Linked DNA regions of Homo sapiens. The protein of the gene in region 1 purifies or fractionates together with the protein of each later gene. This does not show direct contact. Each region holds a gene or a part of one and is shown in the gene's direction. Other genes may lie near its edges.

Region 1 (3,234 bases):
CTCACCCCTGTTCCCCTGCCCCGGCTCAGGGCTCTTCATGGTCATGTTCTCCATCATCTCCATGGACTTCTTCCAGCTGGAGGCCGCCCAAGCTGGCTACCTCATGTCCTTCTTCGGGCTCCTCCAGATGGTGAGTGGGCACACAGGGCCTGCTGGGGGGCACGGCAGGGGTCTCCAGTGGGGCAGGCCTCTGAGAGTAGAGGCTCCTCCCCGGCGGAGGCTGGGGAGCCCTTGGCCTCCCATCTGGCACATGTCAGGGTCCACAGGGAACCAGGCATACAGGCCAGGGAGGGAGAGCCAACTGCAGTGGTGGGCACGCTGTGAGGACAGTGGACTCCGGCCTCTGATGGGCAGCTGGCTGGGATCTGTGGCAGCCCACCTGCCCACCAGCTGTGTGACCAGAGCAAGTCTCCCAAACTCTCCAAATCTGTCCCATGAGGCCAAAGTGCCCGCCTTGCAGGGTCCTTGGCAGATGAGATGACCTAACGTGGCAAAGTGGTTAGACCAGCGTGGGCCCCTTTGGAGGTCCCATAGGAGCAAGACGCCAGCCCTCAGAGGCCACGCTGTCATGGTAGGATAAGACGCCAGCCCTCAGAGGCCACACTGTCATGGAAGGATGCCCTGAAACCCTGGCAGCTCCGATGCGGCAGGTGTCTGTCTGCCAGCCCCCCAGAACCGCTCAGCTCCCGGGCCGGGGCGAGACACCTCCACCACCAGCTCCTCTGGGCTTCTGGACCAGACCCTGGGTGGTGGGGACAGGTGATGATTTGCCACCACCCAGGATGGCTGCCTGACAGCCAGAGTGCGGGGCGGGGGGGCTATTCTGGGACCCGCCAGGGTGGGGGTGGGGGCTCTCGGCCTCTCCGGAAGCCTGTGGCATTCCTGGCACCTCCAAGCCATCTGCTCTTCAGCCTCTGGGCCCAGGACTAGACTAGTGCTAAAATAGCTGCTCCTGGGAGGGGCTGGACCCCCACCGTGGGCAGAGAGGGCCTCTGCTTTTTGGGGCAGGAGGGGCCACCCTGGCAGGGTAAAAAGAGATAAACAGAAAAACAACAGCAACAATAATAGTAACAATCCGGGGTTGTTGCCATGGGGCCTGTTCTGAACAGGCTGCGCCCAGCTCACTGCGAGGAAGGACGCTTAGCCAGGCCCTGGCTGAAGCCTGCAGCTGGGCTGGACACAGCAGTCATTGGCCTGTGTTGTGGGGGACTTGGGCCTGCCATGGCTGCAGTGGGGACCCTGCCTGAGACAGACAGAGCTGGGGTGGTGACCAACACCGTCGGGGCACCCTCGCAGGAACTGGGCCTGGTGAACTGCCCAGGGACGGGGAAGGAGCAGGGTGAGGCATGGGGACCCCGACACAGGTTGAGCAGCGGGAGAGGAGGCTGAGGAGGGGAAGGAGGGGGCCCGCAGAGTAGCCCCCAGACCCCAAGTCCGGTCAGGGACAAGCTTGTTAGCTCCAGGTTCATGTCACAACCTGCAGGGCTCCTAAGTTCAAGCTTTTTTAAACTTAATGGGCAAACTGAGACGCAACACAAATAGGCTTCTGACCTTGGTGTCTGAGTCCTGGATCTGAAGTCCTTCACGGCACTCACTGTGAGCCCCTCTTAGACGCACTGCACGAAGTGAGCTTGCCAGCTCTTCCTTTAAGAAACGTGTTAGGCCGGGCGCGGTGGCTCACGCCTGTAATCCCAGCACTTTGGGAGACCGAGGCGGGCGGATCCCAAGGTCAGGAGATTGAGACCATCCTGGCGAACATGGTGAAACCCCGTCTCTACCAAAAATACAAAAAAAAAAAAAAAAATTAGCCGGGCCTGGTGGCAGGCACCTGTAGTCCCAGCTACTCGGGAGGCTGACGCAGGAGAATGGCGTGAACCCGGGAGGCGGAGCTTGCAGTGAGCCGAGATCGCGCCACTGCAGTCCACGCTGGGCGACAGAGCGAGACGCCATCTCAAAAAAAAAAAAAAAAAAGGTGTTAAAATCCCAAAAAACCCTAAGATAAAGCAAGTGTGAAAGTAAGATTTTTAAACCATTTATGGTTCCGGTTGGAAGCAGTTTCTGTTCTGCCTGGCAGGAATTTGGGAGGGTGACTGGTCCCCTGCAGAGGTGCTGCAGGCTGGGCCTGCCCTGTGGGCAGATACTGAGCCCAGGGGCTCCTCCAGCCGGGGCCACCCCTGCACTCCCAGGCGCGTTGGCCCAGCACGCCCTGCTTAGTGGAGGAGCTGAGATGACCAGATAGAGAGCCTCGCCCTGGCCTGGGAGCAGCCTGCGGCCAAGCCTGTCCCACCGAGCCCATCCCCGGGAGCAGCCTGCGGCCGAGCCTGTCCCACCGAGCCCATCCCCGGGAGCAGCCTGCGGCCGAGCCTGTCCCACCGAGCCCATCCCCGGGAGCAGCCTGCGGCCGAGCCTGTCCCACCGAGCCCATCCCCGGGAGCAGCCTGCGGCCGAGCCTGTCCCACCGAGCCCATCCCCGGGAGCAGCCTGCGGCCGAGCCTGTCCCACCGAGCCCATCCCCGGGAGCAGCCTGCGGCCGAGCCTGTCCCACCGAGCCCATCCCCGGTGTCCCTGGTGTGGGCCTTTCCTTCCTCCCTTGTGGAGAGGAGCCCCGACTCCTCAGGGATCTCAGACCCATCCTGACGCAGTCACTGCTGGCGGAGTAGGGAGAGACCCCGGGGCTTGCAGATGCTGAGGGGCCTTCTCTGCAGAGGGGCCCTGGCCACCACAGGCCAGTCTGGAGGTCCCCAGCTTTGGGGGCTGGCCACAGTCCAGACGCCCCTCCCTCGCCTCCCCCATACCCACTTCTACCCTCTCTGTCTGGCTCTAGGTGACCCAGGGCCTGGTCATCGGGCAGCTGAGCAGCCACTTCTCGGAGGAGGTGCTGCTCCGGGCCAGCGTGCTGGTCTTCATCGTGGTGGGCCTGGCCATGGTGAGGGCTCCCCGCTTTGGGCCCACTCACCTGACCCTCTCACTGGGCAAGGCCACCTGGGCGGTACCATCTGTGCTTAAGCCCTTGGGGACTCCTCCAGCCCCCCACACCCACCCGGGGCCAGCTCTTCAGCAGGGACAGCAGTCAGGGTGGGGAGGGACAGGTAAGACCCCAGAGAGGAGCCTGGTCCCGTGAGGCCCCCACTCAGCTCGGCCCCCGCCTGCCGTCCCAGGCCTGGATGTCCAGCGTCTTCCACTTCTGCCTCCTGGTGCCCGGCCTGGTGTTCAGCCTCTGCACCCTCAACGTGG
Region 2 (3,500 bases), on another chromosome or scaffold:
CCAATAATGGGACTGCTGGGTTGAATGGTAGTTCTTTGTGTTTGTTTTTGTTTTTGCTTTTGTTTTTATTTTGTTTTGAGACAGGAACTCACTCTGTTGCCCAGGCTGGAATGAAGTGGCACAATTATGGCTCACTGCAGCCTCGATCTCCTGGGCTCAAGTGATCCTTCCACCTCAGCCTCCCAAGTAGCTGGAACCACAGGTTCGCGCCACTGCTCTTTGCCAATTTTTGTATTTTTAGTGGAGATGAGGTTGTGCCATGTTGGTCAGGCTGGTTTTGAACTCTTGGCCTCAAGCAATCCACCCACCTCAGCCTCCCAAAGTGCTGAGATTACAGGCACAATCCACTGCGCCTGGCCCACAGATTTTTAAAAGTAGTATTTTAATAAAAAGTAAAAGGATGCAAAAATGTTAGCCTGTATCTAAGGCAGTAGTTCTCAACTGGGGATAATTTTGGTTCTCCTGCCACCACCTCCTCCCCACAAATTTGGCAATGTCTAGAAACATCTTTGGTTGTTACAGTTCAGGGGAGAGGTGCTACTTGAAACTAGTGGATAGAGGCCAAACATCCAAATGTGCAGGACAGTCTCCACGACAAAGAATTATCCACCCTAAAATGTCAATAGTGCCGAGATGGATAATCCATGGTCTACAGACAGTTTAACTGTTGTGATAATGAGGCTGTATCCAAGAAATCATTATTTACTTAAATTGAAGACCGAATGGTTAGGAGAAGAGAATTTGTTTTTTAGTGCTAGCTTAGTAATACTTAGGATGTTAAGAAACATCATATTAAAATTAGTTTAAGGTAATTTATTTCTTTGAAGACTTAAAAAATCAATGAAAATGGATAACTTAGTTATATTAAAAATTAAATTTGTTTATTATATCTAGAAAGAGCTCATATCAGTTTGTATTTTAAAAATAATTTTTAGCTATAGTTGTGTATGAAGTTTCTTTCAAAGTGACTGTCTTTTGGGGCTGGGCGCGGTGCCTGACGTCTGTAATCCCAGCACTTTGGGAGGCCAAGGTGGGAGAATTACTTGAGTCCAGGAGTTTGAGACCAGCCTGGGCAACATAGTGCAACCCTGTTTCTATAAAATATTTGAAACTAGCTGGGCATGGTGGCATGCATCTGTAGTCCCAGCTACTCAGAATGTTGAAGTGTGAGAATTGCTTGGGTCCAGGACTTTGGGGCTACAGTGAGCTATAATTGCACCACTGTACTCCAGCCTGGGTGACAAAGTGAGACCCTGGCTCAAAAACAATAATAAAAATAATAAAACAACAAAGTTACTATCCCATGATGGAGTCGGAATTTAGGAATAATTTTGTTTCCTTATACCAAGTCCTCTATGATTTTTCTGTGGTTGTTAATTGGATAAATTTAAATTATGCCATATATGAATATTCTACTTTATGGAAAATGTCCCTTTTGCAAAGTTAAATTGAAGTTTGTGATTTAATAAATATGGGTCTTTGTAGTTTATTTAAAGATATAAAATAATGATGGGGAAAATTATTTTAGTAAACTGTGTTAAATTATTTAGGATGTTAACTAACCACATTCATTATTTATTAAGTTTAATAATATCAATCTTTGTTTTTAGCTCAACAGAAATAGACGATATGCTTAGAAAATCAACAAATCTGCTGCTGACCAGAACTTTGAGTAGCTGTTTACTGAACCTTATTAGAAAACCTCATATAGGTTTGACAGAGGTAGGTTAAAAAGACACATATAGTGAAATGTTTCATTGTATGAAACAATTATTTTAAATTATTGCTGAACGTCATTCTGTAAAACTAGCTTCCTGTTTTAAATGTATTAATATAAGCAGATTTGTTTTCAAAATAAAAACACCAGTGTAAATTCCAGAAATGTGAGGATCCCAGGCACAGTGGCTCATACCTCTAATCCGAGAGCTTTGGGAGGCCAAGGCAGGAGGATTGTTTGAGGTCAGGAGTTTGAGACCAGCCTGGGCAATATAGTGAGACCCTGTTTCTACAAAAAATGAAGACTATTAGCCAGGCGTGGTAGTGTGCAACTATATTCCTAGCTACTCTGGACTTGAGCCCAGGAGGTTGAGGCTGCAGTGAGTTACAATCATACCACTGCACTACACAGCCTGGGTGACAGCAAGACCCTGTCTCTGGAAGAAAAAATAAAAAAATGAGGGAAAAGGGTTCATATGGGGAATAGTAGATAAAGATGTTAGAATATCTATTTAGATTTCTGATTGCCAGACTACAGGAAAAGTCACAATCCTAATTTTTTACTTGCTAAATGTTTAAGATTTGAAACATACTATGAAAAGTTATTTTAAAATAACTGGTATTTAGACTCTTGGTGTGTGTGTGTGTGTGTGTATATATATATATATATAAATTCATACGCAGTATTTGCAACAGGCTTTTAAAATCAGATAGTTGTATCCTATAATGCTGCAATTATGTAGAAATGGTACAGTTGCTGGAAGTAATAATCCCATTTTTAAAAATTAGGTGATTTTACATACATGTAACCTGTATTTTACTAGATATATCTTGTGTTTTCTAGCTGGTACAAATCATCATAAACACAACACACCTGGAGCAAGCTTGTAAATATCTTGAGGACTTTATAACTAACATTACAAATATTTCCCAAGAAACTGTTCATACTACAAGACTTTATGGACTTTCTACTTTCAAGGTATGTAAAAATTTGACCAAAAGTTTTCATTTCAGTCACTGTAAGCAGACGTTAAGAAATTAAAGACCGTTCTTATATATGCAAGATCTACTATATTCCTAAAAATTAAGAATAGAGGTATTCATTGTCAACAATGAGCAAGTAAATGTCAGTTTCTTTTTGGCACTGTAAACATCTTATTAACATGGAGAAAAGTATACTTATTTTCTACAGTGTATTATGCTTTGTTCATGTTTTGATGATTTATAGTAGTGCTGACTAGGTCTAACTGAATTAATATTTCACAGTTTAAAAATTAATTCTATATGAGTGTTTATTTTTGAAAATTTAAAATGTAAGACAAATTAAAAAAGGATAGATTTGTTTTCCATCCTTGATTGGTTCTGATCTGAAGAAAAATAAATATTATTACATGTCATTGAAGTCCTACCTCTTTTGCGGGTGGAAAGATTTCTGTTTGAATAATATACAGAATATACTGAGGATTAATTAATGGTTGTTTTAGGTAGAATGTAAGATTAAACAATTTCATAAGGTATTTTATTATTTGGAGTCATAGATGAGACACTGGCTTAGTCTAGTGTGTATAAATCCCCTTGAATTGAATATTTTATTAAACTAATGATAAACCATGTACTGATCACTTATCTGTAAAATGGGCTTGCTAATTTAACCTTACAGCTCTTTCTAAAAGTTTCCTATTAAAAAGAATTCTCTTTAACTACTTTTGTTATATTATCAATCACCCCCAAGATTTTATTGTAGTAACTTGCATTGTAAAAAATGAATGTACTTGTGTTTTAAA
Region 3 (3,500 bases), on another chromosome or scaffold:
GCATAAATCATAAATAATCATGTAGAGAGGGACCTGAAATTCTAACACATTTCTAAGGTCTTTGTACTGCACTGTAATTTTTTTTATCTTAGCTTTTACTTTGTTCAGGGGCTAAACTTTTTATTTGTAGGCAAATTTATACTTTTTTTTTTGTTTTGTTCTGTTTTGTTGCTGTTGTAAGTACTTTAAAGGTAAATTCTTAATTTATTTACTGGTGTATAAGTCACAGCCATAATTTGTTATTTGGTTATTAGATACTGTGATTAACTACCTTATTTGTAGTTTTTGCTGTTCCAGGCAGCTTACTTGGGAAAAACATCTTTTGTGGTTTAAGAAAATGTGGGGTTGGCTGGGTGCGGTGGCTCATGCCTGTAATCCCAGCACTTTGGGAGGCCGAGGCGGGTGGATTACCTGAGGTTGGAAGTTCAAGATCAGCCTGACCAACCCTGTCTCTACTAAAAATACAAAATTAGCCGGGCATGGTGGTGCACGCCTGTAATCCCAGCTACTCGGGAGGCTGAGGCAGGAGAATCACTTGAACCTGGGAGGCGGAGGTTGCGGTGAGCCGAGATTGCACCATTGCACTCCAGCCTGGGCAACAAGAGCGAAACTCTGTCTTTAAAAAAAAAAAAAAAAAAAAAAAAGTGGGGTCTTAACAAAGTGGTCAGAAATGGGCCTTCATAATTTTTTGTATTGTCAAAAAAGACTCCTTAGGAGTACCATCTGAGTTAAGTGTGCATAGTGTGCATGCGAGTCTGTGTGCATTTTCTTTAAAAAAATTTTCTTTCTTCTGTTTACAATTTCACCTGTCTCTCTCCGCCCTCAGGTAAAACAAAATCAACATGAAGAGCTTCAGAATGTAAGGAAGCACATACACAATTGTTTCTCAAATCTTGGTTGCTTCCTTTTGCCACATCCTGGTCTTAAAGTTGCAACTAATCCTAGTTTTGATGGGAGATTGAAAGGTGGGAATTCCCATTCTTGCTAAAATCTGAACTTATTTATTAGAGGTGGAAAGTTTTTTAAGAAAATACATGACGCCTTAAATGTCCTGTCTTATACTGGAGAATGTTTGGATGCATTGTTCATGTTGTGGTTGTAATGCTCTGTGTTGTTTCTCTAGCATTCCATTGATTTGTTTGCAGCTGTCTAGCATATTGATTAACCTATTTTATAATGTCTGTTGCTCAGCAGTGATGTCCTGAAAATTCTGAAGGCTGAGAGCATTTCTTTTCAATTGATTGCAGTCTGCTAAAAGGCTTTATCATTTTATTATATTGATGAAATCAGATATAAGTGTCTGTTTCAGGAGTGATAGTACAGTTTATGTATGTTGTAGGATTATTTTGAGTGTGTTGGCAAAACATTTGGGGATTGACAAAACTTTTACAGTATGGCTGGTAAAACATAATCTAGTAGTAAAATTTAATACAATTTTATGAATTGTTTGCCTCTTGAAAAGGACATTTTCGTTAATACTAAATGTGAAATTTGTCTTGGTAGTCCACAAATTTATTGATGTTTTATTTGTTATTTGAACTGGCAGTGTTACTAGGGGGTTGGGGAAAATGGGCTAGTAGAGTAAGGGGGATTATATTTTTTCCTATGAGATATGGCATGTTGGATGAGCTTTTTTTTAAAAAATGAATCCACTTCAGTAATAGATACTATGTATTCTTATTTCATAAAACAGAATTTTATGAAATCGTACCAGTGGGGACCTAATTTTTTTTGGACTAATATGTTGCTCAATTTTTTGTTTTCTAGATATTGATGAAGACTTTAAACGAGAGCTTCGAAATCTGGTTCCATTGCTGCTTGCCCCTGAAAATTTGGTAGAAAAAGAGATAAGTGGATCTAAAGTCACTTGTAGAGATCTTGTAGAATATTTTAAGGTAGGTGAGCTCTTAAACAGTTTTGTCTAAGATAGAAATGTAGTTGACTTAAAACTCATCTGTATGTATAAGAAATTTCTTGTCTTTATTTTAAAACAAAAAAGAGTAAGATTTGTGATTTATCTTTCTGCCTTGAATTAGATGTATCTGTATTTAAGGATATTTAAAAGATTATAGCAGATTTCTGTCTCCTAGACAGTGATTTAATTTATTTACAGAATTATCTTACTTTTTCTCCATCTCAGATATGGAGAGAACAAGCCATTCATCATACTCTAATACTACTCTGTCATTAGTGAATGATAATAGGAATGGAAAGCATAATTTTACATCCTAAGTTCTCACAAAAACACTCCCTCAGAGTTCTGAGGACTTGATAAGAACAGCTGAAAGTATTTATATTGGTTCAAGTAAAGTACTCTTAGGTTTTTTTTTTTTCCCTCTGTTCTTCTCTAGTCTTTATAGCTTGCCTGCCAGAACAAGACCGCTGTGGAAGGTTGTATTATTTGTAGTAGTTTTAACTAAGAGTGTATTTTGTTCACTTATTGGATACTTGATAGTTACTCTCATATTATCTTTGTTTAGTTATGAATGAATTTTTTAAAATTTATTTTTACTTTTAATTTTTAATTTTTGTGGGTACGTAGTATATATACTTATGGGGTACATGAGATATTTTTGATACAGGCATACAATGTCTAATAATCATATTAGAGTAAATAGGGTGTCCATCACCTCAAGCCTGTATCCCTTCCTTATGTTACAGACAATCCAATTATACTCTTTGTTATTTTAAAATGTATAGTAAGTTATTATTGACTGTAACTACATTGTTATGCTATCAAATACTAGATCTTATTCTAACTATATTTTTGTACCCATTAACCATCTCTGCCTCCCCTCCACCCTCTGACTACCTTTCCTAGACTCTAGTAACCATCTTTCTAGTACTCTCTATCGCATGAGTTCAGTTGTTTAAATTTTTAGCTCCCACAAATAAGTGAGAACATGTGAAGTTTGTTTTTTCTGTGTCTGGCTTATTTCACTTAACATAAAGTCCTCCAGTTCCACCATGTTGTTGGAAATGACAGGATCTCATTCTTTTATATGGATGAGTAGTACTTCATCGTGTATATGTACCACATTTCTTTATCCATTCGTATATTGATAGACACAGGTTGCTTCCAAATTGTAGCTGTAGTGACTAGTGCTGCAGTAAACATGAAAGTGCAGATGTATCTTCTATATACTGATTTTTTTCTTTTGGGTATATACCTAGCAGCAGCATTGCTGGATCATATGGTCGTTTTATTTTTAGTCTTTTGAGGAACCCCCAAACTGTTCTCCATAGTGGTTGTACTAATTTACCTTTCTGCCAACAGTGTACGAAGATTCCCTTTTCTCTACATCCTTGCCAACATTTGTTATTGCCTGTCTTTTGGATAAAAACAATTTTAAATGGAGAAAGATGATATCTTTCTGTAGTTTTGATTTGCATTTCTCTGATGATCAGTGATGTTTTCATATCCTGTATCCCATTTGTTTGTCTCCTTTTGAGAAATGTCTGTTCAGATCTTTTGCCCGTTTTTTGATCAGATCATTTGA
Region 4 (3,500 bases), on another chromosome or scaffold:
CTGGTAAGGGCTCAATAAATGTTAAGCACTTTTATAATAATGTTTTGTGACCTCGCTGACTTCATATGTAAAACAGAGGCTGTAATACCTGCATTGAACTGATAGGATGAGAATTAGAGATGATGCATGCATGTCAAGTGCTTAGTACTGTACTTAAGAGGTCGAGTCCCAAATAAATGGCAGTTATTTTTATCATGCTATTTTTGTTTTAAAGTTCTGACATTTTAGCAGGTCAGAAGAGAAAGCTTAAGCTAATCTTCAGCTTGTCATGAAGCAGTCCCATGAACTCAGTTTTCAGTGGTTTGGCTGAGAATTAGAGGCATTTTCTAATTCAACACTCACTTATCAGTTACTCATAGTAAGCTTTCTTGTGATTCTTTCATACACATTTTTAGTGCCCTGAGAATCTGGGTTTGCATTCTTTGGAGAAGGGTGGTGCTGCTAGAGATGAAGTACAATCATTGAGTAAAGGACTGGTTAGATGTGTCTTTGGCTGTGAAAATCTCACGGAAGTATTGCAAACAGCCTGGTCTGTTGTACTTAGAAATATAGGTTTGGTGTGATTTTTTTTTTTCCAGTATCATTCTTTATGAGTTGCTATGGTAACAGTGTACCCATCTGAAATGCAGGTGAAAATATGAATCCTAGATTTATGTAGGCAATATACGTGCTGTTGCTTTAGCATGTTTATCATTTTGAAGCAGATGGCAGTTATACAAGAGAAGTTTAGAAATAAAATTACCTTATACCAAAACACCTAAGTGCTATTTTTCACCGAGGTAGCTGTAGGGTTGTAGAAAGAGCCAGGTGTGGGTACTGGTCTAATCTATCTTATGTGTTTTTGCCCTTCTCAGCCTAATCTTCTATTTATAAAATGGGAACTATGATTCCTTTATGGCTTTTTCACAGATAGTTAAATAGTGTAAAGTTGCTTGGAAACGCTTGAATGCTCTGCAGATCTAAGAAGGCAGTACAACTTCATGGTATATGCTTTGGAGTTGAAGACACTAAGTTTAAAGCCCTGCTTCCACCAGCCCATTGTTGTGTGTCTGTAGTCCCAGCTACTTGAGACTGGGGCAGGAGGATCACTTGAGCCCCCAGGAGCTTGAATCTAGCCTGGGCAACATAGCAAGACCCCATCTCTTACAAAAATGATAAATACATTTCTGCTTCTACTAGTTATTCACTATGTGACCTTGGCCAAATAACTAATTTCCCCAAGCTTTAGTTTTCTGGAAATTATAATGCCTTTTAAGATTGCTATGAGAAATAATTAAGGTTTTTGTGATTAAAGAAATTAGGCAGGTGGGTGATGCTAAATAATAGGCTCTTAGAAAGTCCTATGTTGGGTAAACTGCAAATTCTCAGCCACAAGAGTATGGGGAGTTCGTTGGTCAAGTAGCACATGCCCTCCCAGTTACCCATGAGCATAGATTAAAAACAGCCAAGGTTCCAAGTGAGAAGTCCACACTTCTGACACACCTAGCAATTTCTTGAAGTGCGTTTTCTCTGAAAGAGTAATAAGTTTATTGTCAACTCATGCCTGAGGGCTCAACTTCACTGTTTAGTTTTCTTTAGCTTAGCTTCTATTTTTTTAGGTGTTCACTGTAAATACACCATCTCATTTAATCCCAATAACAGCCTTATAAAGTAGGTACTATTATTGAATCCATTTTCAGGTGAGAAAACTGAAACTTAGAAAGGTGAAACAGCATTCCATAAGCCACATATATAGAAAGCAACAGGGCCAAGATTTGACTTCAGATCTGCTGATTCCAGAGCCAAACAAGTTAGCACCGTGTTTTACTGCCCAATTTTCTCTTCCTTGGCTGTTGAGAGTAGCAGGGTGGAATGGAGAAAGCACTGGCCTATGGACCAGGAGAGTCTTGTTCTAGAATATGAGCTGTGCTCTGAGTAGAGTCAACCTTAATGTTGTGGGAAAAAAACTGGACTAGACATTGTTCCTCCTAAGTTTTGTATGACCTTAGCCACTCAGTTAACCTTTGTGAGATCTCAGTTTTCTTATCTAAAAAATGAAGTAAATAATAAGGGTGTTGCTAAGGGGGATTTTTTTTTTATCTAGAGGTTTGTTGGAAGTAACTGTAGTAGTCATGCATCCAACCTCCCACCTGATGCCTCTGTGCCCATATTTTTGTCAGTCGAGCCACTCTCTGAACGTCATATTTCACAGCTGCTCAGGTTTTGGGCCACTCTTATTTATACAGTCCTACATTAAGTCTTAAATTTTTTTCTCTCATAAAATTTCCATGTTGTGTTAAATCAGTCACTTAGTTGATCATTTTTGTAGGTGGGAAAAGTAGGGAGGAACAGTGGGAAGGTATTTCTAATACCAAACAATGTCCCTGTGACTGAACATAGCTTTTATCCTTAAATAAGCCATGCCTATTGTTCTCATTGATCTTTTTCACTTAAAGTACACAGCTGTCTTCTGGGCACACTGTGGCTGTGATGGGCATTGACTTCACACTCAGATACTTCTACAAAGTTCTGATGGACCTATTACCTGTCTGTAACCAAGATGGTGGCAACAAAATAAGGTAAGTGCTTTGGGGATGCTATTTCCTTTCTAGCTGCAGTTTAAAAATAGATGTCAGGTATCTCTAGTTGAATGGGAACCGCATAGTTATGGTCAGGAATAGAAATCTAATTTATGGCCTGGGTGTCCTATTAAGAAGGTTTTTGTTCTTTTTCTCTTCTTTCGTTTTTCTGAGATGCATACTGTTTATGATTTAGACAGACTCAGCACACAACAAGAAAAATAACTGTAGCATGGAATGCACCAAAAGCTCTTGTTTCCCTGGAAGTCAGTAATTAGAGGCTTCCCATATCTTTGGTACTAGAAAGACCAGAGAGGACTCTTGGGTAGGACTTTTGATGTTAACTTTGTCATTAAACCAAAGTCTTTGTGACATTTTCAGCTGCTTAGACTGTTCCTTTTACATTTCCCCAGAAAGAGACCATGGAACCAAAAGTCTCTGCCTCCTGAATTTCAAAAGAACTTGTCTGATCAAAGCAAGGGCATACCCTTGATTTAATGCAGGCTGCTTTTAAAAATAGCTTTCTTAGTTCCACCTCATGGTTCATGCTTCGTGTCATTGGCCCTTATGGGGAAATGCAGAATTCCTGGCAAACTGATATCACTAATGTAAAGTAAAATAAAGCAAAATATAGTCTTGATTAAAGCAGTTCTAGCTTCATTTATTGTTTCTATCAAATATAGATCAAATATAGTAGTCCCCCTCTTATCTTTGGTCTCGCTTTGTGAGGGTTCAGTTACCCATAGCATAATACAATAAGATATTTTTATAGAGACAGAAAGACCACATTCACATAACTTTTATTACTGTTATAATTGTTCTATTTTATTATTAGTTAATGTTGTTAATCTCTTACTGGGCCTAATTTATAAATTAAACTATCACAGGTAGATATATATAGGGAAAAACCTGTATATGTAAGGTTCAGTACTATCATCACTT
Region 5 (4,147 bases), on another chromosome or scaffold:
CCATGCCAGTACTTACCTATTTCCTTTTTTTAAAGTGGCTGTATAGTTGGTAAATCATTACCAGCAAAAAGACCTATTATGGAGCCAGACTGAGTGGGTCTGGTGTTTCAGCAAGCCACTCAAGCTCTCTGTGCTTCAGTTACCTCATCTGTAACAGGAACATTTTCACCGTACCTGCTGCATAGGGTTTCTGTGAGAATTTAATGAGCCAATATCGTTCAGAATAGTGCCTGGCAGATGAACGCCCTCGTGGTGACTCCATGATTTATTTACCTAACATTGAAGAACTGTTTTAAGCAAGGGAGTGAGCGATATAATCTGGTTTCTTTTTAGAATAAAAAAAACATCACCCTGGCACCTGTTGGGGATGTTAAACGGGAGGAAGATCAGTCAGTGATGGATATCTTCTTGTGAGACTCTTGCAATACATAGTGATACGGAAGACTGGTTGGTACTGGCAGAGGAAGGAGAGGAAAAATAAACTCTTGAACCACTTTTAAGAGACCAAATGCTAGAACTTGTTGACTGCTGATGGCTGAGAAGAGACAATCTGACAAGTTCGAGATTTTTGGCTTAGTGGCCTGTGTAAATGGTGGTGCCACATTCGTATATTTTTTTTTTTTTAAAGATTTTTTGTTTCAGTGTCTACTACGGATCTGGCACTGTTCTAGGTACAGGAAATACGGAAACAGGATCTCTGCTCCGAGGAGCTTACACTCCAAGAGATATTTATGACTGGGAAGAGGAGACCCAGAAATAGTTAAGTAAACACATAAATGAACAAGAATGGCAAGCTAACTTAGCATGTCTTGATTGAACAGTAGGGGTCCAGTAAATATTCAGTAACTTTAAAACATCCAACCCTGTACGAGTTTAACAATCTCTCCTAACGGTGATTACAGGAGCCCGTGATTCATTCACAGCGGCAGACGAGCGCCAGGAAAGGGTTATTTGATCTGATCCCTCAAGTTCCGGAGGCAGCAGGTCAGACGATCGGCCCCATTTGGCAGCCAGGAAAAAAGCTTAAGCATTTTGGCCAAGGTTACACAACCCGAAACACCGGGACGCGGCCCGGAGGCGGCTTCGGCCTTGCGGTCCAGGCTAGGCCACTGCGCCGGGGCCCAGCCTGCTCGGCGCCCGCCCGAGTGCTCGGCAGGCCCGTAGCGCCGCGGCTCCCAGGAGCCGAGGGGCAGCCGGCGCGCAGGCGGCGGTTGCCGGGCCCTCCCTCGGCCCGGCGGCGGTGGCGGCCCCGCGTCGCGAGGCACTTCCGGCGCGTGCCGGGGTGGCCGGATGACGTGGCTGAGTCAGAGGAAGAGGCTGAGGAGGCGCGGGGGGCGGGGGAGGCTCAGGAGCGGGCGGTGACGGCGACGGCGGCGGCAGAGGAGGCAGCGGCTGGGCCGGGCCCCGTGCGTCTGTCCGCGCCCCGTGGATGCGAATCGGCCGCGGCGGAGGCGGCGGCGGCGGAGGAGGCGGCGGCGGGAGGAGGAGTCGGTGAGCCGGCTCCGGGCCGGAGGGGCGCGGAGGATGAGGCCGCTGCCTGGCGCTCTTGGCGTGGCGGCGGCCGCCGCGCTGTGGCTGCTGCTGCTGCTGCTGCCCCGGACCCGGGCGGACGAGCACGAACACACGGTGAGGCGCCCCGGCCGGCGCGGCCGCCCCGGGCTAGCTCCCCAGTTGCCCACTGAGGCAGGCCCCACGCAGCCTGGAGTGCCCGGCGGCCCGGTGGTGCCCCACTGCGGCCCGAGGACTCCTTCCGGTTGGGCCTGGCGGAGCAGGAACCTTGGGAGCGTGGAGGAGGCATTTCCGTGCGCTCCCGGGACAGGGCTCCGCTCCCGAGTGACAGGGTCTCCTTCCCCCGGTCTGGGCCTCAGTGGCGCCGCACCCCAGGGTCTCGGGGTTCCTGGGACCCTGGGGCCAGGAAGGAGCCTGGGAAGGGTTGAGGTTCATCCACCGCGGGAGCGGGGCAACGGGCAGGCTGGGCTCGGGGCTTTTGCCCCCCAGGGAAGGAGACTGCCTTCTGGCTACTGAGGGCTGCGACGCCGAGGAAGATGGATGCATCGTGATTACCCGGCAGCCACTAACCAGGAAATATCCTACACTTTATGGTCTCCTTTGGCTTTTATCGCCCGCTTCTGCCCAGACCGGATTAAAACCCTGGGGTGGGGCAGCATTAATAAACTTGAATTGAAGAGCAGTTTATACTTACTTGTAAGTGCACCCAACCTACACGCGTTCAATTCCTAGGCCTTTCTTGTAACTTTCTCCTCACCTTCCAGCCCCTAAGTGAGACCCCCATCCCGATAGTCTCTAACTAAGGCAGCTTCTGACAGTAAAGGGTCTTGACGTTTCCCAGTCTTCAGGTCAGGGCCAGAAACAGTCCCTTTTGCATTTGGCCTAAAGGTGATTGGCAGTTTGTTTAATTGGTATTCTCACATCAAAACGTGCATGTGAACGACTCTTCAAATGGCTTTCACTTAGGGCTGTAACTGTGGTTTTCAGAGTGGTAGACTTGAGCAAGGCAGGAAGGTCAGGTAAATTGAGAGTTTGCTTGACGAGTAATTGTTTTTTATACCTTTACCATTAATGATAGGAGTTTCTATGAGAGACTGTGTTTGTACTAAATCAGAACGATCTGAGGGAGTCTTATGTCATTTCTGGTAAGTGAGGAAATGAAGCAGTCGTCCTTACCTATTTAATGGATCCGATTTTATTTGTAATCAACAAAACTTTTCGCTGGATCCTTGGCTAGCTGGGATCTTATTTTAGCTAATAAAAGCTCTAAACTTTTGACTGTTCTACCTTCGGTCACAGCCAGAAACTTCTTACCTGTGTAGGTATGTATTTCTTTAGAGACACAAATCTCGAATTGGTGACATGTTTTTGTACTGTACTTGTGGTGTTTCACCTAAGATAATTTTGTTGGGAGGTTAAACAGCTTAAAACGATTTCCTTTTGTGTTCTTTCATCAGATAAGCTGTCTCAAAGTTTAAGAACTGCTATTGTTTCACATAGTATACAGGGACCATGTATAGATTTGGGTCTTTGAGTATTTTTAAATTTTCAGTGGGCATCCATCCTTCTGTTTAATGATATTATTACTAATATATTTCCAATTAAAAAAACACTTAGGAAAAGTTACCATATGAAACTCAGAACTCTCAATGTGTAGTTCCGTGATACAGGCATATAAGCTCAAAAGTGTACTGTATTCTACTTTTTAATCTTGTAATCTTGTGACTTACACTGCTGTGATTAGGGAAACCATTAAAATTTTACAAATTGGGTGTATATAAAGGCTTTAGAATAATTTACAAATTAAAAGTGTAATTTCAATGCAGTTTTATTGCTAGGACTATTTCAGTTTTTTATTCTAGTAATTGCATATAAGATATTTGATAAAAGGTTTTTGTTGACTGCCACGAAAGATAATATGGTATATATGAGATGGTTGCTAGACAAAAAATTTAGAATCCATATTACTTCATGTCTATATTGAACTGCTCTTACTTGGTTACCCATTATTAAATACCTATTATTTATTTATTTATTTTTGAGACAGAGTCCCACTCTGTTGCCCAGGCTGGAGTGCAGTGGTGCTGTCTCACATCACTGCAACCTCAGCCTTGCGGGCTCAAGCGATTCTCGTGCCTTAGCCAAGTAGCTGGGATTACAGGTGTGCGCCACCACACTTAGCTAATTTTTGTATTTTTAGTAGAAAGGGGATTTCGCCATGTTGGCCCGGCTGGTCTTGAACTCAAAACGACTGGCCTCAAGTGATCTGCCTGCCTTGGCCCCACAAAGTGCTGGGATTACAGGCATGAGCCACCACGCCTGGCCGAATATGTATTGTAAAAAGCAAAACAAAAACAAAAACAGTTATGGGAAGAATAGCATCTAAAAATAAGCATAAAATTCAAATGTCATTTATATTATTTTTTCACTGTTAGCCAAAATCTTTTGCTTTTTCTAAATTTCTTGAAAATATTTCTCAAAAACTAGGCATTCCTATTCCTCTTAGCCAGATAGTAGTACCGAAAAGGCTAATGTCAAGTGAGTTTTATTTATTTTTTTCTGTCAAAGAAGCAGAAGTAGCTAGTAAAGAGAGAATAATACTAAAGGAAGAGGAGACATTGGTGTGGGGAAGTTGCTG
Region 6 (3,500 bases), on another chromosome or scaffold:
CTGTCCTCAGAACACACGCCGTGGGAGTCAGGGAACGAGAGGAGCCTTGACATCAGCATCAGTGTCACCACAGACACAGGCCAGACCACTCTCGAGGGAGAGTTGGGTCAGACTACACCCGAGGACCATTCGGGAAACCACAAGAACAGTCTCAAGTCGCCAGCCATCCCAGAGGGTAAGGAGACGCTGAGCAAAGTATTGGAAACAGAGGCGGTAGACCAGCCAGATGTCGTGCAGAGAAGCCACACGGTCCCTTACCCTGACATAACTAACTTCCTGTCAGTAGACTGCAGGACAAGGTCCTATGGATCTAGGTATAGTGAGAGCAATTTTAGCGTTGATGACCAAGACCTTTCTAGGACAGAGTTTGATTCCTGTGATCAGTACTCTATGGCAGCAGAAAAGGACTCGGGCAGGTCCGACGTGTCAGACATTGGGTCGGACAACTGTTCACTAGCCGATGAAGAGCAGACACCCCGGGACTGCCTAGGCCACCGGTCCCTGCGAACTGCCGCCCTGTCTCTAAAACTGCTGAAGAACCAGGAGGCGGATCAGCACAGCGCCAGGCTGTTCATACAGTCCCTGGAAGGCCTCCTCCCTCGGCTCCTGTCTCTCTCCAATGTAGAGGAGGTGGACACCGCTCTGCAGAACTTTGCCTCTACTTTCTGCTCAGGTTTGTAAACAATTCTCTGCTGTATAGTCAACAAGATTATTCAGAGCAGTTTGCCTTAATGGGCAATTACTATCATGCTTATAGTTTGACGTGCTCAAAGCATATTAATGTATCTTTGGGTTTCCCCAGTTTAAAGAGGGCGAAGAAATCTAAGACCTATTAGTGGTGGTTTATTTGAATTCTACAGCAGTCGATGGCTGGAATATACTATGAGGCTGATAAATGTATAGGATGTAAAGTAAAGAATGAGAAGTAGCTGCATTCTAGAAAGGTGCTACTGATTGAAACAAGATGACAATCTGTAATTCTTAAAACATTGAATTCCCAGTATGCTTCTATGTCTTGGTGTCTAAAATTCATAGAGCAATGTACTTTTGGTGTATCAAAATGTAAACAATTTTGAATGCTGTCTTGGATCAGTTGCACGCCAAGTCCTCCCAATATATTCTGAATTCTAGTGAACATTCGAACAATGTGTGATAGTCTAGTATAGCTTGGTAACGTTGCATTCTCCCATCTCAGATCCTTCCATCTGTTGAATTGTGACTCAGACCGTAAACAGTGGTGCTGGGGGGAATAGTGGGCAAATCACATCAGAAAATAATGCTGGTATTATTGAAGGGCAGAAGAGAATCACTTAGAGTTTTGGTGGAGGAAGCAGATAAAGAATACAGGGAAGTAGTAGCATTTCACATAGTAAATAATTATTTTTAAGATAGTGTTCTTGAAAGATAATACAGAAAGAAATAAATTAATGGGTACATAAAATTTATGGTGGGAATAAATGTTGGTATGGTACCAGGGAGGTCATCTGTGCCTTTCCCTCAAGTACAAGGGTCTCTTGACCACAGAATACTGGGGCAAATGAATCTCCCTAAGCCTGTGCTCAGATCCAAAGGGCTGACCCTGGGAACTGACACAGAACTGCTAAAAAGCCATGATCACCACTTGCTCTTCTACCACTTAACCTTGAACTTGTGTTTGTCATTGTGCTTGGTGCATTTATCACAGTCATGTGTTAATGCATCCACCATCCCTTCTACCCTCCCCTCTCTAGACTCCCTGCTCTTTGAGGGCTGAGACCTTGTCTCACTTCCTTTTTATTTTCTAACAAAACTTCACACACATACATGAAAAAATTGTAGCCCAGTTACTGGAACTTGGTTAGAAGCTGACTGATGTGTAACTTAACAAGTATCTTTAAGAAGCTGACCAAATTGTCCTTTTTCAAGAGGACAAGAAAAAGACACTTAAATCTCTGTATATATAAGAAGGAACAAATTTTTTTTTCCTTTTTTTTTTTTTTTTCTGAGAGAAAGTCTCACTCTGTCACCCAGGCTGGAGTCCAGTGGTGCAATCTCGGCTCACTGCAAGCTCCGCCTCCCGGGTTCATGCCATTCTCCTGCCTCAGCCTCCCAAGTAGCTGGGACTACAGGCGCCCACCACCACACCGGGCTAATTTTTTGTATTTTTAGTAGAGACAGGGTTTCGCTGTGTTAGCCAGGATGGTCTCGATCTCCTGACCTTGTGATCCGCCCGCCTTGGCCTCCCAAAGTGCTGGGATTACAGGCATGAGCCACTGCGCCCGGCTGGAACATTTTTTAATAAGAGAATTATCCAAAGTTGTAGCAAGCACCAAAGGAGACACAGAATTTTTACTCCAGAAATTTTCACATGACCTAGAAAAGGATGTAAAGAGACATGATTTCTCAACTTTCCTAATTCTTATTTCCTAAGAATTTCATACCTTATTTCCTAATTTCACATCAATTTTTAAGGCTACCTAACATATTTTTTTCCTCAATATTTTTTCTTTTGGAGTTAAATATAACAAATTTTGGATTTTTTTATTTGTGTGTGTAACAAAATTCACGTTTTATTGGAAGACTAGGAAAATGTATACTCTTCCTAAAAAATTATTTTTCTCCCTAAGATCTTTTATATCACTGTCATTAAATTTGACATTCTCTTATTGAACATTCTAGGGGTGTGTTTTGTGCATGTTTGTGTCTGTCTGTCTGTCTTTTTGTCTCTCTCTCTCTCAGACACACCCACCCAAATCCTCCTTCAACCAACATTTATAGAGAAGCCGAATTGTGCTATATGCTAAGGTCCCAAGATATGTACAGCTTATTCTCAATAAATATTTATTGATTGTAAATTGATGAAGTTGTACTTCGGTCTCTCTCTCTTTTATTTTGTAACAGGGTCTGACTCTGTTGCCCAGGCTGAAGTGCAGTGGCTCAGCCTCCCAAGTAGCTGAGACTATACGCACCACCACACCCAGCAATTTTTTTTTTAATTTTATAGATACAGGGTATTGGCCAGGCATGATGGCTCACACCTGCCATCCCAGCACTTTAGGAGGCTGAGACGGGTGGATTGCTTGAGCTCAGGAGTTTGAGACCAGCCTAGGCAACATAGGGAGAACCTTTCTCTACAAAAAATACAAAAATTAGCCAAGCATGGTAGTGCACCTTTGTCCCAGCCACTTGGGAGGCTGAGGCGGGGGGATCACTTGGGCCTGGGAGGTTGAGGCTCCAGTTAGCCATGTTTCCACCACTGCCCTTCAGCCTGGGCAACCGAGCAAGACCCTGTCAAAGAAAGAGAAAGAGAGAAAGAGAAGAAACAAAAGAAAGAGAAAGAGAAGAAAGGAAAGGAAGGGAAGGGAAGGCAAGGGAGGGCAGGGCAGGGCAGGGCAAGGCAAGGCAGAGAGAAAGAAGGGAAGGCAGAAGGGAAGGGAAAACGGAAGGGAAAAGGGAAAGGAGAAGGGAAAGGGTCTCACTGTGTTGGAAAGAAGGAAATAAAGAAGAGATGAGGCCTCACT
Region 7 (3,407 bases), on another chromosome or scaffold:
TGGTGGAAAACATCACAAACCTGGCACACCATTTGAATATCCCTAATATCATTCCAGTCGCTTTCCTCATCAGTTGCCTTTCTATTTCAGTTCATTCACAGATCTCACTTCTGAATGTGCCACTTCCAGTAGACATGCTGGTCAAAGAGCAGTCATCATTGGGGTGAAGTGTTCTTGACAGTTTAATATGATTCACTTTTCTCCAAAGACATGTAAAAGGCTGTTACGAAAGCTTGGCTTCTGTCATGGAGACGGAAATGGGCAAGCTTCCTTCCGTAGCCTCTTGTTAATCCTTAAACATTAAATATTTCGGGGGTAATAGAGCCACTGGTGAGTAAAAACCTATATAAAAACCAAAATTATAGGATTTTTTCTTTTTTAGTAAAAACCGGTATCAAAACCAAAATTATAGGATTTTTTTCTTTTTTAGTAAAAACCTATATAAAAACCAAAATTATAGGATTTTTTCTTTTTTAGTAAAAACCTATATGAAAACCAAAATTATAGGATTTTTTTCTTTTTTAGTAAAAACCTGTATAAAAACCAAAATTATAGGATTTTTTTTTCTTCTTTTTTAGAGAGAGAGATTAGAAAACGACATTAGGAATTTCACTTTAAAATGCGCATTACAAACTTCTTAGGTGTTCCAGGAATTATCAAGTGACTTTAAAATGACTTTTCCAACCTGCTTTGTTTTTAAAAATTATATTCCAGTTTTAATCATTGTAAAAAAAGCACCTGGAGTTTCAAAACATGTGAATACTACCAAGTTTCTGTCCCCAAAGTCAGGCATCACTGTTAGTCTTTTGGGACAGATGGGACAGATGTTCACTTTAATGTTTTACTTGAAGTTTTACTGCTCTTTGCCATGTGGTAAAAAGAGGCTGAGACATATTTAAGAATTCCAAGAGGATATTATGTGTCAGAATTTCAGACACTGATGAGAAGTTTTTAATTGTTCTTTTTTATTTGATTTTGGAATTCAGGTGCACTCTATTCAAGTGCAAGGATATCAGAAGTTTTTTTTTATTTAAAAAATTTTTTTTTCGAGATGGAGTTTCACTCTGTTGCCCAGGCTGGAGTGCAATGGCAGCTTACTGCAACCTCCACCTCCTGGTTCAAGCGATTCTCCTGCCTCAGCCTCCCAAGTAGCTGGGATTACAGGCACGCGCCACCACACCTGGCTAATTCTATTTAGTAGAAATGGAGTCTCACCATGTTGGTCAGGCTGGTCTCGAACTCCTGACCTCAGGTGATCCACCCACCTTGGCCTCCCAGCGTGCTGGGATTATAGGCATGAGCCACCAGGCCGGCCCCAGGATTTTATATTAAGCCTTCTTGCTCTCAAAAAAAAAAAAAGGTTTTAACTATTCCATTTCCAGATGAATCCCATGAGCGCTGCTTACTGTTGAATACCAAGGTCTAGGGCTCTGCTTCCTGTAGACACGCACACGTTGTCTCCATCCAATGGCCTTTTCTGAAGTTACAGAAAACACCAACATGGGAGGGAGTTTATGAAGCAAAGGCAAAGGCAACACGTCGGCTAGCTTCAGGGTAGCACCGTGAGAAATGGGCTGTATTGATACTGTGAATGTTTGTTTTCCAAGCTGTTTTATACAGGTTTGTTTTTTCATGGTGTAGGGTATTTATGACAAAGTAAATGTTGTGAAGGTTAAAGATAAATTAAGATTATCCACCAAATGCTAAAAATACTGATGTGTAAATCACCTTTATCGCCTCACCTCTTCTACAAGCTTTTGTGGCTTGAGGGCTTTTGTTTTTGGCTTTTGTCTGGATGAAAGTTTTGCCCAGTTGTGTTTTAAAAACAATTCCTCATGAACACTAAGATTAATTGTGTCTGTATCTCTGGAACTGGGTGCTCATGTTGGTTTTAATGAGCTTGCAACCCTTCCCCGTTTGCTTTGTTTAAGGAGGTGCCTCTGTTCTTTGTGGAGGAGTGAAATGGAGCTTTAAGTGTGTGTGTGTGTTATGTGTGTTTGCACACACGCGTGTGTTATTGTAGCAATAACAAAAAGTAGCCATCTCCTTGTTCCAGCTGAAAACCTGCTGTGAGAGTTTTGACAGAGCACTTTATTTTCGTCAAGTTTCAAGTCTGAGTTCAAAACCAGCCCTGATCCCTTATGACCAACTGCTACTCGACCAGTCGCCACTCAGTGGCCACCTGGTGCCCGTTTAGATTTTTGCTTGGGTTTTACTGGCCACCTCTATAGACGAGAGTTGCAAAGTTGCTTTGAGCAGAGAGGGAAAGATTAATTTACACTGCTGGCCACCGAAGGCAGGTGTTTCCTGGGTAGTAATCTCACGGCTCTTGATCTGGAAACTTCAGAGTACAAATTGGTGGATGGTGGAAGGCAGGACACGTATCTCTGTCTGACGGAAAACAGACCTCGGGGCTGGCGTAAACCCTGCTGCCAGGCCCTCTCCCCACTGCCCCAAACCGGCCTAGACACGAAGACCAAAGCAGCCTGCACAGGGCAAGGCCCCCGCGGAATCCTGCAGAGCAAACTCAGGTTAACTTGGGTCCATGACCGTTTGCATTCGAAACACAATACACTGCCTCGTTCTCTCAGTTAGCAGCTGGGCAGCAGCGCACCATTCATCATTTAGGCTTGTGGTTTGTTGTTTACTCTACCAATGTTATGTCGAAACTGCATTGTAAAAAGAGAAGAAAGTGGCAGGTTTTCCAGGTCCACGGAAAGGTTTGGCCTGACGCTGGAGTGCGGTGATGAACTTACGTGACAATGATTGTATTCCTCAGTAGCACTTTAAACGCCGAAGACAGCCCTGCAGCAAGCCTGCACACGGGCTTGGGTGGGTTCCTTTGGAGAAGATGTGGCTGGAACACAAACAATCTTTGAAAGAAATAAATGTGCACACAGAACACTACACTGAGTTGTTTTTCCCGAGTCCTGTTCTGTCCTGGAAGTCCCAGGGTCTTCTCTGAGCGCCCCTTTCATCAGGTCATCCTTGGACTTCACTGTCCATTCCCCACCCCGGTGGGTGGCCCGGGTGCATGCAGAGGGGACAGGTACCTGGCTCAGCCACAGGTGGAACAGCGTCGGCACTTGCCTGGGGCTCACGGTGGTTCTGGGAGGGAGGCGGTCGAGTCGGGTCACAGACGTGTCCTGCGGGCCCCATGCAGGCATCGTGCCTTCTTTCTAGTCATCAGTTCCCGTGGTCTCCCTCAGTCTTCATTCCCCCTGCGGTGCCCAGACAGCAGAGCACGTGGAGAGCTGGTGTCCTGGAGAAAGCTACTGGACAGGCCCAGCCTCCTGTCCCCACACTGCCCACCCCTCCTCTCAGCTGTCCCGCCCGCTCGCTAGACACCGTGTAGACCCTTAGAGGGAGCCCGATGCTTCCCAGCTGGGTTCCAGGTTTTCTGCTCC

The links.
Region 2: the proteins of SLC67A1 (region 1) and EXOC6 purify together in Homo sapiens (affinity purification with mass spectrometry; one large-scale study listed by BioGRID and IntAct). This does not show direct contact.
Region 3: the proteins of SLC67A1 (region 1) and ATL2 purify together in Homo sapiens (affinity purification with mass spectrometry; one large-scale study listed by BioGRID and IntAct). This does not show direct contact.
Region 4: the proteins of SLC67A1 (region 1) and CACHD1 purify together in Homo sapiens (affinity purification with mass spectrometry; one large-scale study listed by BioGRID and IntAct). This does not show direct contact.
Region 5: the proteins of SLC67A1 (region 1) and TM9SF3 purify together in Homo sapiens (affinity purification with mass spectrometry; one large-scale study listed by BioGRID and IntAct). This does not show direct contact.
Region 6: the proteins of SLC67A1 (region 1) and ARFGEF3 purify together in Homo sapiens (affinity purification with mass spectrometry; one large-scale study listed by BioGRID and IntAct). This does not show direct contact.
Region 7: the proteins of SLC67A1 (region 1) and C2CD2 purify together in Homo sapiens (affinity purification with mass spectrometry; one large-scale study listed by BioGRID and IntAct). This does not show direct contact.

What each region holds. Positions count from the first base shown.
Region 1 is NC_000011.10:2,919,278-2,922,511, forward strand, and holds part of SLC67A1 (solute carrier family 67 member A1), read left to right. Parts: intron 1-29; coding exon 30-130; intron 131-439; coding exon of another isoform or gene 440-481; exon of another isoform or gene 482-2,513; intron 2,514-2,824; coding exon 2,825-2,926; intron 2,927-3,158; coding exon 3,159-3,234. UniProt on the Homo sapiens protein: May act as a transporter of organic cations based on a proton efflux antiport mechanism. May play a role in the transport of chloroquine and quinidine-related compounds in kidney. Plays a role in the regulation of lipid metabolism.
Region 2 is NC_000010.11:92,953,020-92,956,519, forward strand, and holds part of EXOC6 (exocyst complex component 6), read left to right. Parts: intron 1-1,610; coding exon 1,611-1,722; intron 1,723-2,560; coding exon 2,561-2,695; intron 2,696-3,500. UniProt on the Homo sapiens protein: Component of the exocyst complex involved in the docking of exocytic vesicles with fusion sites on the plasma membrane.
Region 3 is NC_000002.12:38,307,774-38,311,273, reverse strand, and holds part of ATL2 (atlastin-2), read left to right. Parts: intron 1-826; coding exon 827-965; intron 966-1,767; coding exon 1,768-1,895; intron 1,896-3,500. UniProt on the Homo sapiens protein: Atlastin-2 (ATL2) is a membrane-anchored GTPase that mediates the GTP-dependent fusion of endoplasmic reticulum (ER) membranes, maintaining the continuous ER network. It facilitates the formation of three-way junctions where ER tubules intersect.
Region 4 is NC_000001.11:64,669,129-64,672,628, forward strand, and holds part of CACHD1 (VWFA and cache domain-containing protein 1 isoform 1 precursor), read left to right. Parts: intron 1-2,435; coding exon 2,436-2,558; intron 2,559-3,500. UniProt on the Homo sapiens protein: May regulate voltage-dependent calcium channels.
Region 5 is NC_000010.11:96,584,213-96,588,359, reverse strand, and holds the start of TM9SF3 (transmembrane 9 superfamily member 3 precursor), read left to right. Parts: upstream 1-1,347; 5' UTR 1,348-1,524; coding exon 1,525-1,626; intron 1,627-1,651; exon of another isoform or gene 1,652-2,049; coding exon of another isoform or gene 2,050-2,205; intron 2,206-4,147.
Region 6 is NC_000006.12:138,262,939-138,266,438, forward strand, and holds part of ARFGEF3 (brefeldin A-inhibited guanine nucleotide-exchange protein 3), read left to right. Parts: coding exon 1-673; intron 674-3,500. UniProt on the Homo sapiens protein: Participates in the regulation of systemic glucose homeostasis, where it negatively regulates insulin granule biogenesis in pancreatic islet beta cells. Also regulates glucagon granule production in pancreatic alpha cells.
Region 7 is NC_000021.9:41,884,612-41,888,018, reverse strand, and holds the end of C2CD2 (C2 domain-containing protein 2), read left to right. Parts: 3' UTR 1-2,907; downstream 2,908-3,407.